Linked DNA regions of Homo sapiens: regions 1 and 3 are each linked to region 2. The links come from fine-mapping of genetic effects on gene expression. A gene starts in region 2. Each other region holds a variant in brackets. All regions are shown on one strand. Distances are between the middles of the regions.

The links. PIP is the estimated chance that this variant, and not a neighbour inherited with it, causes the effect.
Region 1: its variant is the best candidate, but not a certain one, in a credible set for the expression of P2RY12 in whole blood (TOPMed, PIP 0.68).
Region 3: its variant is the best candidate, but not a certain one, in a credible set for the expression of P2RY12 in whole blood (INTERVAL, PIP 0.67).

The regions. Positions count from the first base shown.
Region 1 is chr3:151,411,281-151,417,244 of GRCh38, reverse strand. It overlaps MED12L (mediator complex subunit 12L), which reads right to left. Exons shown (of 45, transcript NM_001393769.1): 41 at 5,738-5,964; 42 at 3,950-4,106; 43 at 823-933. Among named protein-coding and RNA genes, the nearest start is that of P2RY12, 30 kb to the right of the region's middle. The variant A/G (reference allele first, on the strand shown) is at 3,290.
Region 2 is chr3:151,382,208-151,388,171 of GRCh38, reverse strand. It overlaps P2RY12 (purinergic receptor P2Y12), which reads left to right and starts at 3,419. Exons shown (of 3, transcript NM_022788.5): 1 at 3,419-3,480. It overlaps MED12L (mediator complex subunit 12L), which reads right to left. Exons shown (of 45, transcript NM_001393769.1): 33 at 5,427-5,516; 34 at 4,284-4,393; 35 at 3,954-4,089; 36 at 2,981-3,142; 37 at 1-362.
Region 3 is chr3:151,358,568-151,364,531 of GRCh38, reverse strand. It overlaps MED12L (mediator complex subunit 12L), which reads right to left. Exons shown (of 45, transcript NM_001393769.1): 21 at 3,927-4,058. The region is part of intron 1 of P2RY12 (purinergic receptor P2Y12); the gene reads left to right. Among named protein-coding and RNA genes, the nearest start is that of P2RY12, 23 kb to the left of the region's middle. The variant A/C (reference allele first, on the strand shown) is at 2,360.

The DNA.
Region 1 (5,964 bases), 29 kb before region 2:
TGTTTCTCAAAGTGTGAGACATGAGCGGTCAGCCAGCTCATCGTAGGTAGGGCTCATTCATGCAATTCACATCACTCAGTTAAATGGAGATTCCCTTCTAAATTATTTTTGTATTTACTTTCACAGATATTTCCAATATGTGGCAAGTGATATAATTATGGATGGTAATGATAAAATGCTTCTTTGAAAACTACATTTATTTAAGCAAATATAATAAGATGACAGTTTAAAAAAAAGTAATTAATGAAACAGGAATATGGCTGTTGTAAATGACTGAGGTTTAGAAAACTTTGATGGCTATGCATATGACATTTCCAAATTTGATTTATGAAGCTAGAGAAGTGAACTATCCGACTGTGAGTTACATGAAAACTCTTGCAGCAAGTGCTAACTGAATGAAAAACAATTTCTTATTGAAGATAATAGATAATATTTTAGAAAGTGCGCCCATGGTTTTTGAGATTATAGTAAAAATCAAAGTATGGTAAGACACTCTTTTAAACATACATAGTAAATCATCGTTTTATCATTGTTTAGGAAAAAAAGACCACGTCTCAATGTAAAAAATTTTGTCTGTGGAACAGTCCGAAAAATTTTGAAGAATAATGGTATAACCTACTGAATCCCAAATATTTACTTGTATCTTCCTATGAAAATAAATATACCAACTACAATGACAATAAAACTCTAGTAAAGTTCTAGGAAAAATTTTTAGGGTATACTTAGGCTTTGTCGATTCTTAACAATCTTATGAACATGAACAATGCAACCTGCTTTTAAAGAAGAAACCCACATGTCTGATTCCAAAACAACAGGCCTTACCAAGGGCTGCTGGGGCTGCATTGCTTGGAGACCAAGGGTCTGACTCTGGGACTGCGAGGACTGCTGGGGCTGGGGAGGCTGCTGGGGCTGGGGCTGCTGGGGCTGCTGCATCTGGAAAGAGGGTAAAAATGTTATACACTTAAAAGGAAGAAGAAAACAGCATTGCTGAATCTGTTTCCCCCATATACCTTTTATCTAATTTTTATGTTGTAGTAAAAACAATATATACCTGCCTGCTGCATCTCTACCTTGCTGAACCTCATTCGTCCTTTTGAGGGCAAGACCTAAACCTGCTCATCCATGAAGCCTTCTAGGACCACCCCAACCCTACGGATCTCTTCCACTGGCAGTCAGTACTGCTGTCTATTCCACACTGCGCTGTCCGGGGCCATCCCTTCTGCTTACTGTTTTAATTCCTTTCATGTCCTTTGTCCTTCCGCATGTTTTATCCCTTCTTACACTACAGGTTGGACGGGGACTGCTCAGTAGTAATCCTCTCATTCTTTATGATATCTGGCAGAATTCTTAAAGGTTTTTTTTTGTTTTTTGTTTTTTTCCAAAAGGAAGAGGCAGACTAGTCGCCATGACACCTTCTGGCATAATTTACATCAGAAATTCAGAAATCATGTCAGTAACAGGGTTGGCTCAAACACACAGCTCTTGGAAAATGCTTCCAAGTCACAGAAAAAGCACAGACCAGACATCCACAAGGTGGGACACAGAGGAGAGAAAAATATTAATAGTTGTTTTGTTTTGTTTCAATGACCTTTAAAATTTCCTCCACCCAAACACTTCATCCTGATAATGATGACAGTCTAGACATTTCTTCATCTTTTGTACTTTTCCAACTTGGTTTGCATACTATCCCCTCAATTACTGGTCTGCTTTACAGCCAACTAATAAATAGCTATTGCCATATGGCATGTCTCACTAAGTGACAATGCTCATGGATCTGGAATCCTAGCAGAGGTCTGGGTAGCATGATCCCAACAAGAACAACGCAAGTTGGACCCAAATCACAATGACTGCAATATGATTCTCCAGTTAGCCCTCTAGAACCTCTTCTAAGAAAAATTAACCCAACTTCATCATTATTAACTTTTTCCTTTACAGAGGTGGCCAGTCACCAAAAAAGAAGTATAATCCTGTTGTAGAAGCAAATCACTTATCTCCAGGGAAGAATGTGTTGATGATGAAAAAATTACCAGAAGGACATATTATGCTAATTAGGATAAAAAGTACATATGGTCTAATAAGAAAAGGCTTTCCGTATTTGCAGCCTTGAAAAACACCAACATAAGATTTAAAACTGGTAAGTAAACAAATAATGTGGTAACTTTCCTCAGTGATTTGGAAATGAGAAATTCTAAACTAGAGCAAAATATAAATTATCAATCCTAAAAAATTCTGAAACATAGCCTCAGAACTTGGAAAAAATGATTTAAGAAAGTGAGTACTCATAGTAATGATAATAGTCATAACATTAATCGTAAAATTATCAAATGAGTGGTTTACTTGAATATTCTTATTTAATCCTTTCTACATATTTAAGAGATAGGTACTATAAGTATTTCCATGACAAAACAGGATTAGAGAGCTTTTACCATTGGAAACAACATCTATACAATGACTGAGATTGCTATCTGAAGGCCATACTCTCCTAATCGGTTACCACATGTTATCAATTTTGTGATACAACTTTTTTTTTTTTTAACATTTTTAACAGGTCACAAATTGGGATGGAACTAATGACATCTTACTACTAATGGCATCTTATAATTGGGAAGCCCAGTTCCAGAGGGTGTGTTGGCTTTTGCCTGTCACCTGGGCACTACCAACCAGAATTTTGTGGATCACACTGAATTCAGACTCAAACCCACCGGAGCTTGTGGTTCAAATGCTCAGGGGAGATATTTGTTTCTCCCCTCTATCCAGTGTCAAGGATAAGACATCCAAGCTCCTTTGTGTCCCTTTCTGCATGGCAGGTTTACTTCTCACTGACCTCATACCGAGTTGAGAGTACAGCCCTTGGGCACTCCAGCTCTACTAGATTCCTCATTTTTGGTGTTCTGTTCTTGGTAGTATATAAAGTAAGTGTGTATCTCAAGTTGGACTGCTGATAAGATTAGAGCCCACTGTACAGTCTCCTTAGGAAATCTCCAGTCCAATAACATAGGACAAGCTTGTTAATATTGAAGACAAATGACACAGGTAAACATAATGGCCTATATTTTTTAAATAAGCAAGTCAGAAACAAGAACATATCAAGGAAGCTGCGTGTGGTGGCTCACACCTGTAATCCCAGCACTTTGGGAGGCCGAGGTGGGCGGATCACTTGAGGTCAGGAGTTTGAGACCAGCCTGGCCAACATGGCAAAAACCCGTCTCTACTAAAAATACAAAAAAATTAGCCAGGGGTGGTGGTGGGCGCCTGTAATCCCTGCTACTCAGGAGGCTGAGGCAGGAGA[A/G]TCACTTGAACCCGGGAGGTGGAGGTTGTCCAGCCTGGGTGACAGAGGGAGACTCCGTCTTAAGGGGAAAAAAAAAAAAAAATGTATCAAGGGGAAGAACCCTTTATCTAACTGACTTAAAATGTACATCAAATAAGTGAATGACAGTTCTCTGGATTCTAACAAAGACAAGATGAAATATCCTTTGAAACAGTCTATGTTCCTCCCATTTCACAGCCTTATCAGACCAGAGGTGTTATAGAAATGTTTTTAGATTGCAGAATGCTCTAGGAATCTGATGAAAGCTCTGGATGGCTCAGTTTTTTGTTTTCACATTTATGACACTTTTAAAAAATTTGCATGGCTCCTACTTAAACAGAGACTGGGTAAGCTGAGGCCAACTCTATTAAAGGCATCCGTCTGCCCTCCCAAACCTTTGTGAAATGGGAAGAATGTTCTGCAAAACGTACTCTTCTGCCCATAACCTGGTAGATACACAGAGAAAATAAAATTCTTGCCAAGTTGTAACTAAATTGTACCAATGTAGCTCCTAGCATCAAATCCACAGGGATCCTTGGAATCTGGCAATTGACAACTATAGTGTTTTTCATTTTTTATGACTGTTGCATATTTGCACTGTCTGAAGGGTGATGGCATTGCCCTCATCTCCCTGCCCCGTACCTGGAGGAGTCTCTGCTGCTGTCGAACTTGCGGCTGTCTGGGTCTCATGGGATCCTGAGGCAGGGGCACGGAGGGAAGGTTTGGATGTGCAGAAGTCAGCACAGCATCAATTCCCCCGCCCACCAGAGGGCTCTGCTGTAGAGCCTGATGGTTCAGTCTGGCAAAGAATAATGCAACTTGGTTCAGGCCCAAGCATAATGTCAAACTTTTAATCAGTGCTACCAGCACATGACATACACCAACCAAGAAACAATCAGTGCTCAATAATCCTTTGCACAATTCAAATAGACTAAAGCCCAGTGGTTAAAATAATAGATGTGACCACTTGAAAAAGTACAGCAAGCACATGACTTAAGGTAAAATTGCAGTCATGCAATAAATCACTTTTTAAACATTTAATAGTTTTTAACAACGAGGAATATTAATTGAGCATTTACTTTGAAGCAGGCACTGTACTAAAGGTCTGAAATGTGTTACTTCATTTACTCCCCACCAGAGAGCCCTTTAAGGTCAGCAGTTTCGTTATCCCTACTTTAAAAATGAAAAAACAGAGCTAGAGGTAACTTATTAAGAAAGCAAATGGCACAGGTGGGATTTGAACCCAGAACTTTTGGGCTTTGAAATTCAAGTTTGTGGGCCATGCTATGCTGCTATTTATTATAAAAATTGTACATACAATGCACATTTTCCAAATTATTATCCAAAATATCTATTTTCTCAAATGTGTTACCATCAACCTTGCTAACTTTCCAAAGAGCGATTACTTGGAGTCGTCATGCAGCCATTGATGGTAACAGATGGGAGCTGTGCTGCTATCCACTAGATGGACACGTTTTACATGATGCTGCTAAGACAGTACTATCCAACAGAACTTTCTATGATGGCTGCAATGTTTTCTCTCTGCGCTGTCCAATAAGATAACTACTAGCCACAAGAACGAACTGCATAATTTTGGGGTCTCAGTGAATAACGAAAACACAAGGCTCCCTGATCAAAACTTAGTAAGAATTTCCACAGAGAAACTGCAGAGCATTAAACTAAGCATGAAGCCTTTTTAAACACAGGCCCTTCTAAACACAGTGCACGTCACACACCATTGAAGCTAGTCCTGCTGGCCACATTTGGCTACCACTGAACACTTGAAATGTGACTAGTGTGACTGAGGAACTATATTATTAATTTAATTTTAAATAGTCTAAATTTAAACAGCCACAGGTGGCTGGCAGCTACTACAACAGACAGTACAGTTATACACTCTAAGGGATCTAATTAAACAAGAACAGAAAAAAGTCTATCATAATCCTGTTTTGCCAAATATCTTTGAGGTGGAAAAGGTAGAAACTAAGTTATAACAAAACTCTCATGTGCACCATGCACAATTAGTATTGCAATCACACATTTTATTGCTCCAATCAACAAATTGTAGTAAGGCATTCCTAACAATAATCAAGAGTTTTCTCTGTTAGATATGTTCAGAGAATTTTTAAAAAAGAAGAGGAAAAAAAAGAACACTGAAGCAAACACACTATCACGTAAAGACTGTTACACTCATGTCTTGGAAGACATGAGTCAAAACTGTAAGGATCTTTAATGAAATAAACAAGATGGAGCATTCTTTATGTTGAACCTCTATCTGGATACTACTAAAAACGAGATGACAGAATGCAAATTATCTGCAAATATGCAAGCTCATAAAAACAATGATAAAGTACCATGCCCTATAAGAAGCATAAGAAACCCGAGAATGTGACTGTTCATTATTGCCATCATCATTTCCACATGTATCACCTCTGAGAGCCAGTCAGGGGCTGCAGGTACGGCGAGGCCTGCTGCTGAACATAGCCACTCGGCTGCTGCTGAATCTGTCTGAGTCTTTCCATTAGCACGGGGTTGGAATGTGCGGCCGGATAGGCTCTGGAGTTATAGCTGGGAGACAGGACCACACTGCCAGCCTGCTGCTGCGATGTCTGCTGCAAAGGCATCTGTGTCCCATACATTGTATAGCCCTGTGGCAT
Region 2 (5,964 bases):
TCAACTCTTGAGCTAGATTTCGTCTTGCGCTTCCTTCCTTTTGTTTTCTTTTCTTCATCTGTTGTGGTTTTTCCCTGATCTGACAGCTCAGCGGACTTCCTTTCTGGTTCCTGAGAAACTGGAGATGTGGGCTCTTCCTCTTCCTCCTCAGGAGGCAGGGGCAGTGGCTGGAGGTAGTAACTGCGGGGCTTGGGCATGGGGTGTGTGTGATACAGCAGGAGGTGATGCTGCTCCTCGTACTTGATCACTCTTCGGTCCACTCGGACTGTCCCAAACCAGGCCCAGGACAAAGGAGCTGGGTTCTTCTGACCCTCAAACAAGTCCCACGGGGACACCTTCTGCTTCGTAGAGACCTGGAGACCCTGTGGGAAAATAGCGCTCTAAGATAGCACACTCAGATCTTTTCCTTATTCATAGGCCAGGCTTGTATGGGACATGGAGTCAGAGAACACTTTGGCTGGCATGAGCCCTAGAGAACCCGAGAATACAGCAGAGAGGGTTACACAGCTACATCACCGGAGAGCAGTGGCTAGAATTCAGACCTTTGTAAGCCCGGTTCTACAGTTCTTTAACCACATGATGCTCTGTTTAGGCAACAGAGGCAGTCTAGCATATTTTATTGTTAATGTGTATTTCCTCTTTTTGCTAAAAAAATTCTAAAAATTTGTTGCTAAAAATTCTAACACTGCAAAGTTAATCTTACTAAATTATAACCAGTTCTAAATCTCTGTAATCTATTTATAATTTTGAAGATAATATCAAATTTAAGAGTCAAGTTATAGTCAACCTGTAATTGGGTTAGTATTAACTTCAATCCAAATCTGCATGAACTTGGTTCAATATGTGGGCCCTGTACTTAATAAGCCATACTCTGAATATAATATTATTATTAGAGAATTAAATTGTAGCAGCAGGAATAAGTAAAGTCTTTCAACTCAAGCTTATATTTACTGACTCTAGAAAAAAAAAAACGGTTACCCTCTTTTTATTCTTAACATTAATTGGTGACATCTCTTGGCACTTGCCTTAAAATGTCAATTTAAAAATATTTTTCCTTAAATGGCCCCCAAATAACTACTCAGTCATTCCCTAAGATGTAAGTGTTACTGTTGTTATCTATATGCATTCTTTTATGAGTAGCTTCATCTAAAACTAAGGTTCAGGCCAGGCACAGTGGCTCGTGTCTGTAATCCCAACACTTGGTGAGGCTGAGGCGGGTGGGATCACCTGAGGTAAGGACTTTGAGACCAGCCTGGCCAACATGGTGAAACCCCGTCTCTACTAAGAATACAAAAAAAGGCTAGGTGTGGTGGCTCACACCTGTAATCTCAGCAATTTGGGAGGCTGAGGCAGGTGGATCACGAGGTCAGGAGTTCAAGACCAGCCTGGCCAAGATGGTGAAACTCCGTCTCCACTAAAAATACAAAAATTAGCCAGGCATGATGGCAGGCACCTGTAATCTCAGCTACTCAGGAGGCTGAGGCAGAGAATTGCTTGAACCCGGGAGGTGGAGGTTGCAGTGAGCCGAGATCACGCCACTGCACTCCAGCCTGGGTGACAGAGCAAGACTCTGTCTTGAAAAAAAAAAAAAAACAAAGACAAAAACAAAAAAAAATTAGCTGGGCCTGGTGGTGCATGTCTGTAATCCCAGGTACTCAGGAGGCTGAGACAGGAGAATCGTTTGAACCCGAGAGACAGAGGTTGCAGTGAGCAAAGATCGCACTACTGCACTCCAGCCTGGGCGACAGAGCGAGATTCCATCTCAAAAAATATAAATAAACAAAGTAAAACAAAATAAAACCAAGGTTCAATTGCCACCTGTAAATTGACTGTTTCCTAATATTTGTCTTGAGATGAGAACTTTTTCCTTGGTGTAAAAACCACACATCCAAATGGATTCCAGATGTCTTACTACCAGGAAGTCCGCTGACACTGCAAACTCAAACTTGACCATGACTTTAGCTTTTTTTCTTTACACAAACTGGTATTAGATTCTCAGGCTACTCTAAATTCCCTGGTAAATCTGATTCTTTCATGTCTTCATATAAACTCTCCCTTTATTTGTACCACAATTTTCCCTACCTCCCAGCTAACTCTTAATCCTTCAAAATGACTCGTGTCAATTTTCCTGGGGACCCTCTATTCTATCCCCTAATACTCTCTCTGTACCATGTCACACAAATCTCATTACACTGTAATTGTCTGTCTACTTCCCCCTTGAGGGTAGGAACTCTGTCTTTCATCTTGGTGATTGTGGAATGTCGGTGGTTGCTTACTGTTCATTAAAAGAGTAACTGACCAATTTTCTCATATTTTAGAGAACCATCTTTAATATCTTATATAAAACAAATGTCCATTAAATACTGCTTGATAGGAATAGAGAATATCCTAACAATTAAAATAATTTTTATTTGAAATAGCTTACTACAGGAAGGTTTTTTTTTTTTTTTCCCCCCCCAGAGACAGGGTCTCACTTTGTTGCCCAGGCTAGGGTGTAGTGGCTATTCACAGGCATGAGCCTAGCACATTGCAGCCTTAAACTCCTGGCTTCAAGCAATCCTCCTGCCTCAGCCTCCCAAGTAGCTGGAACTAAAGACATGTGCCACCATGCTCAGCTTACAAGAAATTTTTCATTGATAAATATATTCTGCTTCTAAATCTGAAGTATAATCAGAACTTATTTATGCAATTTTTTTTTTACACTAAGCTTTTACTTAGTTTTCTCTTGGTAGGTTTCCAAAAATTTACTTAAATTCAGGGAAACATTTTAAGTCCTTTAAACATATAAAACGTAGATCTTCAAAGATATGACCTCTTTATATGATAATGCCAATGACTAAGTACACTTAGAAGACAAGCATATGCCTTAAAAACATCAACAGCAAAATTAATATATTTTATATATCCTATGGTAAGACAAAAAAAAGTATTTCATCTTTTGTAAATAAATTTATATATAAGAAAAAACATTCACTCTTGCCTGTTTTTTATCTATAGAGTCAAATCCAGCAATTTTGTTTCCTTTTGTGTCAATCAAGGAACCCATAGGTTCACAAGTGATGACATCACATGTCTGTTTCGGCAAAGGTAGTAACTGTCGAACTTTGTCAATACTTTCTGATCGCTTGTCTCCTAGCTCTTTCTAAAGAAAAAAGAGAGAGAGAGAGAGTGAGAAGTGGGACAGAAATTACAATGAAGGCAAAAGTTAACCAGAAGGAAGTTCCCCTATGAAACATTTCCCTTTTTATAGCTTAGCGCATGTTCTTTAACCCTGAACATGTTCTACAAGGCAGTTCCAAATAGAGCAATGAGTGTTTCATTTCTTCTATTTAAGTAGAAAATAGAACACATACAAAGGCACTGTTGTTACACAACAAACATCATAGTGCTGAAATGACAAAAATCCAGGGTAGTGATCACAATCAGAAGACAGGAGCTGCAGAACAGAACACTTTCTCATGTCCAGGGTCAGATTACAAGGTAACCATTGATTTATTTGATTGGTAATGCATCAGATTTATTTGGTTTCTTTTTTGCACTGTTTTCTTACAATTTTTTTTTAAAGGAGTCTGTTAGTGGTCGGTCAAATGAATCGATTTATAAATTTCAATGCAGATGGCTATTTTTTCAATTACACGTGCCAGTCCAAGCATAGAGTTATCCTAAATCTATCTAATGTTAGTATTCTGGTTATATATTTAACAGTGGATTTCTAAAGTTCTTTAAAAAATTAAACATGTTTTATAATGTAATTGTTTTCAATAAAAAATAATCAAGGTTATGTGCATGTAACTTCTGGGTACTAATAAGGTTAGGTGAAACAAATAGCAAATAATCACATTAAATTAAGTTGAATACAATTAATAACATTTAATGAGTAATAAATTAAAATGCACTAGATAATAAATCCATAAACAACTTGAGCTCATAATACAGGCTGATCTCAAACTTACTTTCAGTTTCTTTACTAAATTCATGTATGCACGCTTGTTCTCTTCAGATCCCCCAGGGGATGCATTTGATAGGTCAGAGGCTAACGTTCCATTGATTAAAACACCCAGCATGTCAAGAACTGTTGTGAATAATTCACTAAGAAAGAAAATAATTATTTTCATCTTAAAGTGAAACTGAAATACACTTATTTAACTGAGTATTTTTATTCAAGGCACAGAATTTTTAATAGCATCCAAGTAAATAAGATGTGGCAGAAATCGCCATCAGTATATCAAAGCTTATACCATGCATACATGTAGCAAAATCAATGTGAAGTGATAAAAACATACTTGTTAGTGTGCATGTCAACAGTTCCTGAAGTAATGATCTGAAGGAGTAGCAGGGCCCAGTCTGTAGTCCACTGGGTGCTCCTCTGCACCGTGTCAAACATTCCTCCTACCTAGCAGACAAAATACAGTAAGATATTTGCATTCTGTAAAACAGAAAGAACACCCCATTGCTTTATGTTATCAAATTTTGATTGTTTTTTATTTAAAAAAACAAGGGATGCTCTAGTTTATAGATTACCTTATCTTTTCTCTTTTACCTACATGTTTATCACTATTTTTAGTTCTTTCAGCACAGTTCAGTCATTCAAACATTAACTAAAATGAAGAAGGGACGTGAGTATCTGAATGTGGGCACCAATAAACTTAGCTTTCTTTTGTTCCAAATCTTTTATGATGTCCAGTTTTATGATGCAATTATAGTTGAATTAAACCTGAATAATGTCAAAGTCATGTAATCCAATTATCTGCATCTTTGTGTTTGCTGTACAATTACTATTGAATCTAAGCCTGCTATCATAATACCATATGGAAACATCCACTATCACAGCAGTGGTGGGCAGGAGGCTTGGCCCGCACACCTACCAGTTCACGTGTTGGGACAAGGTTAGAAACAACTGCAAAAGTATCAGGCAGGCCATCCTCCAGAGGGGCCTGCACTTGGGCCTGCCTGATGGGAAAAGAAAACTCAAGGAATGCACAATATGTGAGACATTTTAAATTTCTATAAAACTTCTCTGTGGGATTTGTCTTTATAATCAATTTGATGGAAAGTTGGACAAAACTTTGAGTTAAAAGACTTTTTAAATGGTTTTAAGTAAGTATAGTAGAAGCTAACACTTATAACAGTCTTCTCAGATTTATTCTTAGCACAAACTGAAGAGAAGGAGAGATTCACTGGGGTAGAGGTAGAGAAGGCAAATCTATGCTTAAAATACCTAGCACTGTCTAGATGTCTGACCAGACAGGAAGGAAAGCAGCAAGGGAAACAGAAGGCTTTAGAAACAGGGAAGTAATTACAGAGAGCAAAGAGTGGAAGGCCTCACCTTGTAATGCAGACTTTGCACTTAGGAGAAGTGGAAAGCTGGAGGTATTTTCACATGTAAATATGTTTAATGGAGGGAAAATACTAGAAATGTCACTTACCAAATTTAGGCGGAGTTGCAATGCTTCGTGCATCATCTGCCGCGCTTTTATGTCATCTTGGTATCGTTCTTCTCTCCAGTTACTTAAAATCTAAGATCCGGAAAAAAACTCCCCATTAAAGTTTAATTTTTCTCTCATTTAAAGATAAATTGAGCTTTATACTGATAGCAAAAAACCACTTCTTATCTTTAACAAATTAACAAACAAAGCTAAATAAAATTTTAGCTTTCTTCTTCCTCCATGCAGAAAGAAATCTGGCTATTTATTTGTGCATTTGCCGTTCTAGGTGGAGGAAGAAAATCTTATATAATTATATAGCTAGCCTATGATTAAGTCTGGGAAAATGCTTGAGAGGGCCATCAAATTAAGCATTAATAAAAACTTTTAAAATACATTACCTCATTGATCTTACGAAGAAAAACACTGGAGAGAGAGAATTACATTTTGCCTCAGTCCTGTTATATTTCTAGGGACTTGCTGAACCCTAGCAAATGTATTATTTTGATGTTTTATAGAAGAGAAGGTCTGCTATCTTATG
Region 3 (5,964 bases), 24 kb after region 2:
AGAAGTTCGTGTGCCAAGACTATTCTGGAGACTATGGCACAGCTGTGAAAAAGAGAGGCACATTCCTTGTCTTCAATGAACTTACATTCTAGTAAGGGGATATGGATAATACACAAATTCTATGGAAGTGAAAAAACTATTATATCATTCATAAAAACTTATCATGTTGTATTTCTCAGAGGCATTAAGAGATTTTTAAAGAGCCTGCTCTATCATATAAAAACAGCTCATGTTTCAGTGAGTTACGTCTGAATCAGATATAGACTACTAGAAGTATAACAGGAATTAGAACCTATCTCCTCCAAACCTGCTCTGTGAATGAGACTGGCAGAAAGATTTGATGTAAAATCTCAGATTCTATATAAACTTAGCCATTTGTGCTTACCTTCTGTAGGTAGCATATCCATAAACAACATTCACTCTCTCTACTCAAAAGCTCTTTTATGCATCAGAAAGTCTGTTTTATAGATTAAGTTTTTGGCAGCAAAAGTATTTGTGGTTTGTGGTGACCTATGGCTTTTTTTTTAAACCCCATATTGTTATATACTTGCATCAATGGCAGCCAGGAATGAGTCCCTCGAAGATGAAAAGTCACAAAGACTCTCTATTCTAAACTATTGCCACTGTCAATAGCTTTAAGAAAACAGAGATTGTTCAGTTCAATGTTTACCAAAATGTAGTTTCAGCTCTATTCCTTGAGAATCACTTTTGGGGTGTTTGTTAAAAATATAGAATCCTGGGCCTCCACTGTGGGTGTATAGAGTCCGTATGTGTAACAAGATCTCCCACATAAATCAAGTGCCAAGTAATGCTTGGGAAGCACTACTCTAACAAAGAGGACTAAAGTCATCTACTAAATGGCAGCAATTACAATCTTCTACACTCTCTTTCTGTGTAGACAACTTATATTTTAAAAAATGTGTTGGTTGTCATTGAAGGATACAAGTTTGCAATTCAGAGTCATGACATTTTCAGTTTCTTGAGGTTGATGTGAGAAATAAAGCTCTTGATGGAAATAACCCAGCACAGTGCTTGGCACACAGCAGTAGCTCAATCAGTGGTAGAGGTGACCAGTGTTGTATCTCCCCCAAATACTCCTCTCACACAACTGTGTGAATGGTGTTTCAGAAAAAAATACTCCTCTCACACAACTTTATGAATGGTGGTTCAGATAAAATTATTAAAGTTGTTTTATCAGCATACTGATAGAAATCTCTCTGTGTATCCAGCTTTTGTTTGCCCATTTTTCTTCATCTCAAACTACAAATAGGTCTCTGACTTCAAGATATCCCAAGAAAGTTGTATTTCTCTTTCATTTTTTCAAATAGAGGAAACTTTAGACAGTGCCAATCACTATGATGTGCCACTCTGCTGACCCCTGAGTAATTACTCTATTCACTGTGTGCTGGTACCCTAAATTTCCACACACCCCACGCCCAGCGCATGTTACTTGAATTACCTCATTTAACCTATTTGCACCACACTGCAGGAGTATTAAGGGTCAAATAGGCTACTGGGGCTGTCTGAGGAAGTTCACTATTAAAAAAACGGCTGCTGTAAGAACTAAATCATGTAAGAGAAAGCTCTTTGAAAAATGTAAGCTGAAATGGAAAGCTCTATGTAAAGTAAGAGAAGAATGTTAAGTATTTTTAAATTGTGACACAATTTCTGTGGAAAGATATTTCCTAAGACCCACTCAAATATTTCACAAAGGATTATTTTGAAACCTAACCCATTTCATATTTTCACACTTTATTAATACCATTAAAAACATGAATTGTCTTAGATATAACTATCATTCAACAGATTTTTTTTTCAGTGCCTACTAAGAGCCACATACTCTTCAAGACACTGGGATGTAGCAGTGAAAAAAATAGAAAAAGCTTCTGCTGTCATGAAGCATACATTCTAAGGAGGAGCCAGGCCATAAATAAATATAGAATCTACAGTGGGGGTAGCAAGTGCTGAGGCTCAGAATGATGACATGGGGGTGCTATTTAAAATGGTGTGCTCAGGGAGACAGTCGTGAGTGAAGTGTGGGAGTGGGGCACACAAGTAACTGAGGACAAGTATCACAAGCAACGTAAGATAAAGTGCAAAAGCCCTACTGTGGGTTGTTCTTAGAGTGTTTGATCAGTAAAGAGGTCTGTGTGGCCACAATAAACAGAGGGAAAGGGGTGGAAGAGAAGATGGGACCCTGCAGATCTTGAAGGCTAGGTAGGGATGGTGAATTTTATTCTGAGTGGGTGGAAAATCACTGAAAGCCTGTGAATCATTCGTATATTAAAAGGATCACTTTAGTGGATGTTGAAAATGTGTTTTAGAGTTAAGGGTGGAAGCAAGGAAACCAGTTAGAAGA[A/C]CTCTGCAATGGTCCAAGCAGAGGTATCCACAGCGGTAAAGAGAGGGTGAAGAATGGGCAGGTTCTAGAGATGCTTGGAAGGCAGAGATCACAGAATTTACAAACTGGATACGAGGTATGACAAAGGAAAAAAAATGGTAGTTGAACATCCTTTCCCTACCTCCTTCTGGATTCCAAATTTGTTTTCTTAGCTATTACCTTCTACCACTCTCCTCCTACCCATCTATAGTAAATAATTGTCCTCAAAATAACATTAAATAAGCATTTACTTTCCAGCCCTAGTGCTGCCTGTGGGGGTAGCAAGTGCTAAGATACAACGAATGACAGGAAGTTGGGGATGCTATTTGAAGTAGGAATGGCCATGGAAGCAGAAAGACAAACGGAGTGAAGAAGTCAGCATGCAAATAGCTCTGAAAGAATGTTCTGAGTGGGGTGATTTCAAGAGCAAAGCACAGAATATTGTCTCTCACACTTACAGTAATTTGTAATAAAGGTTATAGCTACAGCCAAAAATAATTCAATACAAATTCTGGATAAGAGTATTAAGAAAATAAAAATATTTATAAAAATACAACTTTCTGGACTCATTAAACAATAAAATATTCCTTCAGCAATAAGATGTATTGACAGGAATCAAATACTACTATCATTATCAGGTCATGAATTTTAAGTCTAAGATAGCAAGTAGGTTAACTGCAGAATTTACAGTACCTTTTTATGATTAATTCAGTTCTATTTTTTTCATACCAGGAAACATTAGATAGCATTTATCAAGCTGAACCTGAATCTAATACAATCTGTAATAGAAACCAGGTTTCCTACTTTTAATGCACATTGATTTAATGTTATTCAGTGAGGGTACTGGTCATTTTAAAAAAACTCATTAACACATGAAAAAGTTACCTGCTAAACAGCAAAATTGTTTTTGTGAAAAAAGAGGAAAAGTAAACACAGTCTGAAAAAGTTCTAGAAAAGTGAATGGGGCTATAGAACCTTCTATGAGTCACCAGGAAATAAAAAATGAAACACTGTAATGCCCAAAGGATATTAAAGCTAATCCAAGTAATGCAAAAAGTCAGCTCAGAAAAGGTAGATATCAAAATCAAGAGGGATACAAATAAAGCAAAATACAAAGAGCTGCCTCATTGATCTTTCTATTAGATTTATAATCCAAATTGAATTTTAAACTTAAAATGGAAAGATATATCAAATAATCATTACTTCAGTAGGACTTACTTAAAATGCACTGTCTGTACAACATATAGAAAATGTAAAATCTTAAGAAATACTTTATTTATTGAAGAAATAAAATCAGACCTAACATCATTTCAATATTGGGGGAAAAAAAACCTATGATCACACATTTACATTGTGTAATAGACTATCGTGTATTGTCCCTGTCTATTTTAATATTCAGTTTAAACAAATCATGAGTATATCAAAATTACTGCCTAATAGATACAATTGCAATTAGCTTTCATTATTCAAAAGGATGACAATATTGTCAGGGTCACTAACAAACATAGGCATGATCCTATTTCTGTCCTTTTGAGTCTCTTCTACTCACCTGAAGAGGTCTCCAAATTTACTTCTGAGGTGGCTACATGACACATAGAGATCATAGAGGTAGGCTAAAATGCATCTTTCAGGGGAAGAACATTCTGAGGGGTTTACGACATGCTTGACCACACCACACAACCTGAGGAGAAAAATATACGAAGAAATAAGACATAGATTTGTACTATGTGGGTTATCATTTGACTCTTTTAGAATGAAAATATGTATCACTTGGGTAAGAAAAAGGATATTGGATTGTTGAAACTAATAAATAGAATAGTAAATAACTCAGTACAATATAATTTTTCTATTATGACACTGAAATAGATTTTAAAAAAAACTTCAGAAATGTCACTGATGACAAGAAACAAAAGCAAGGAAAGAAATTCCTTCATAAAGAAGGTACGTATGGAGGAATCCACCGATTAAGTTGCTGGGACTGAGACACAAAAGGAAAACTGTTGTAGAGAGCCCCTGCCTCCGCAGATTCACAAATTCCATCAGCGTGCAAAGATTCCCAAGTTTTCTCCTTTGTAAAGGAGCAATGCTTCAAAGCAGTCAATCTGGAAAACCCATTTTCAAGTGCATAAGCAGTTCATGGTTTGGAGTCACATTCCCCTTATGCATGTATACATTCCCCTATGTATACCAACTAGTAATAAATTTATTTTAGTTTATCTTATATAAGAAGATAAAGCCCCTTCTGTTTTGTAATATTCTGTATAACTCCTGTAGTTATAGGCCTCTTTGTCCACAGTCCATACAACACAGAAGTCCATACACCACAGCTGTAAACACTTGTGGTCCATTCACCTATCTGTGCATCTGATTCCATCACCATCTTGTATTTTGTTACAGGGCTCAGCCATTATATTACACTAACGGAGTCACAGATGACAGATTATTAAAGACGAAAAAAGCTTTAGAAACTATCTGATTCACCATCCTTATTGTATAAAGGAGGCTCTGAGAGGCAGAAAGGTGGGGTGACTTGCTCAAAGGCAAAGAGCTAGTTCTAGCAGAAGCAAGACAACAGCTTAGGTTTCCAGACTCCCAGATCAAACTCCTCTGTACTATTCAGGGGAAAGGGCAAAGTGGAGAGAACATAGGATGTCTAGGCCAAGGAGGACAATGGAATCACAGGTACCATAGGTGGAACCAAGGAGACTTCTTGAGGAAATGGCAATGTAGTATCCCAAACCCTGTGAAATGACATCAACAGATGGGACTACCTAGCAGCAGGTAAAAGCTGCCAATTAGAACAAAAGTGTCACACAATTAAGAAGAAAAGTAATGATTCAACCTGTTAACTATATAAACAAGCAAACCAAAAACTATGCAGCCATAAAAAAGAACAAAATCATGCTCTTTGCAGCAATATAGATGTAGCTGCAGGCCATTATCCTAAGCAAACTAATGCAGAAACAGAAAGCCAAGCACATATTCTCACTGTAAGTGGGAGCTAAGCATGAGGTACACGTGGACATAAGGATGAGAACAACAGACACTGGGGACTACTGAAGTGGGGAGACAGAGAGCAGAGGAAAGGTCTGCAAAACTACCTACTGAGTACTATGCTCACTTCCTGATGGTTTCAATCATAACCTGAAACCTCAGCACCAAGCAATATACCTTTGTAATAAACCTGTAATAAATCTGTTCTAAAATAAAAGTTAAACAAAATCCTGATATTATCTATAAAGCGAAAAATTATTTTGTGACTAAAGTAAATAAACATTTATTCAGAGTCTGTTAGGTTTAGGTATCCATCGTATAGTAGTCAGTGTTTCCTCAACTTCTTTGATTTGCAAGCAATAAGAAAAACATTTCACATCGTAATCCAGTGTACTGTTCACATAAGTACGAAGAAGTGAAATAATAGTTTTAAGCATAATACTTACCCTTACTAATATAAGGTAAAAATACAACAAAGTTAATGTCAAATATGATTTTATGAATATTTAACAGGATAAAAATTTTCAAGGCCAAACTAAATGATACTGAAATCAATTTCAAAATAACAATATTAAAAACAAAAAACAAAAACA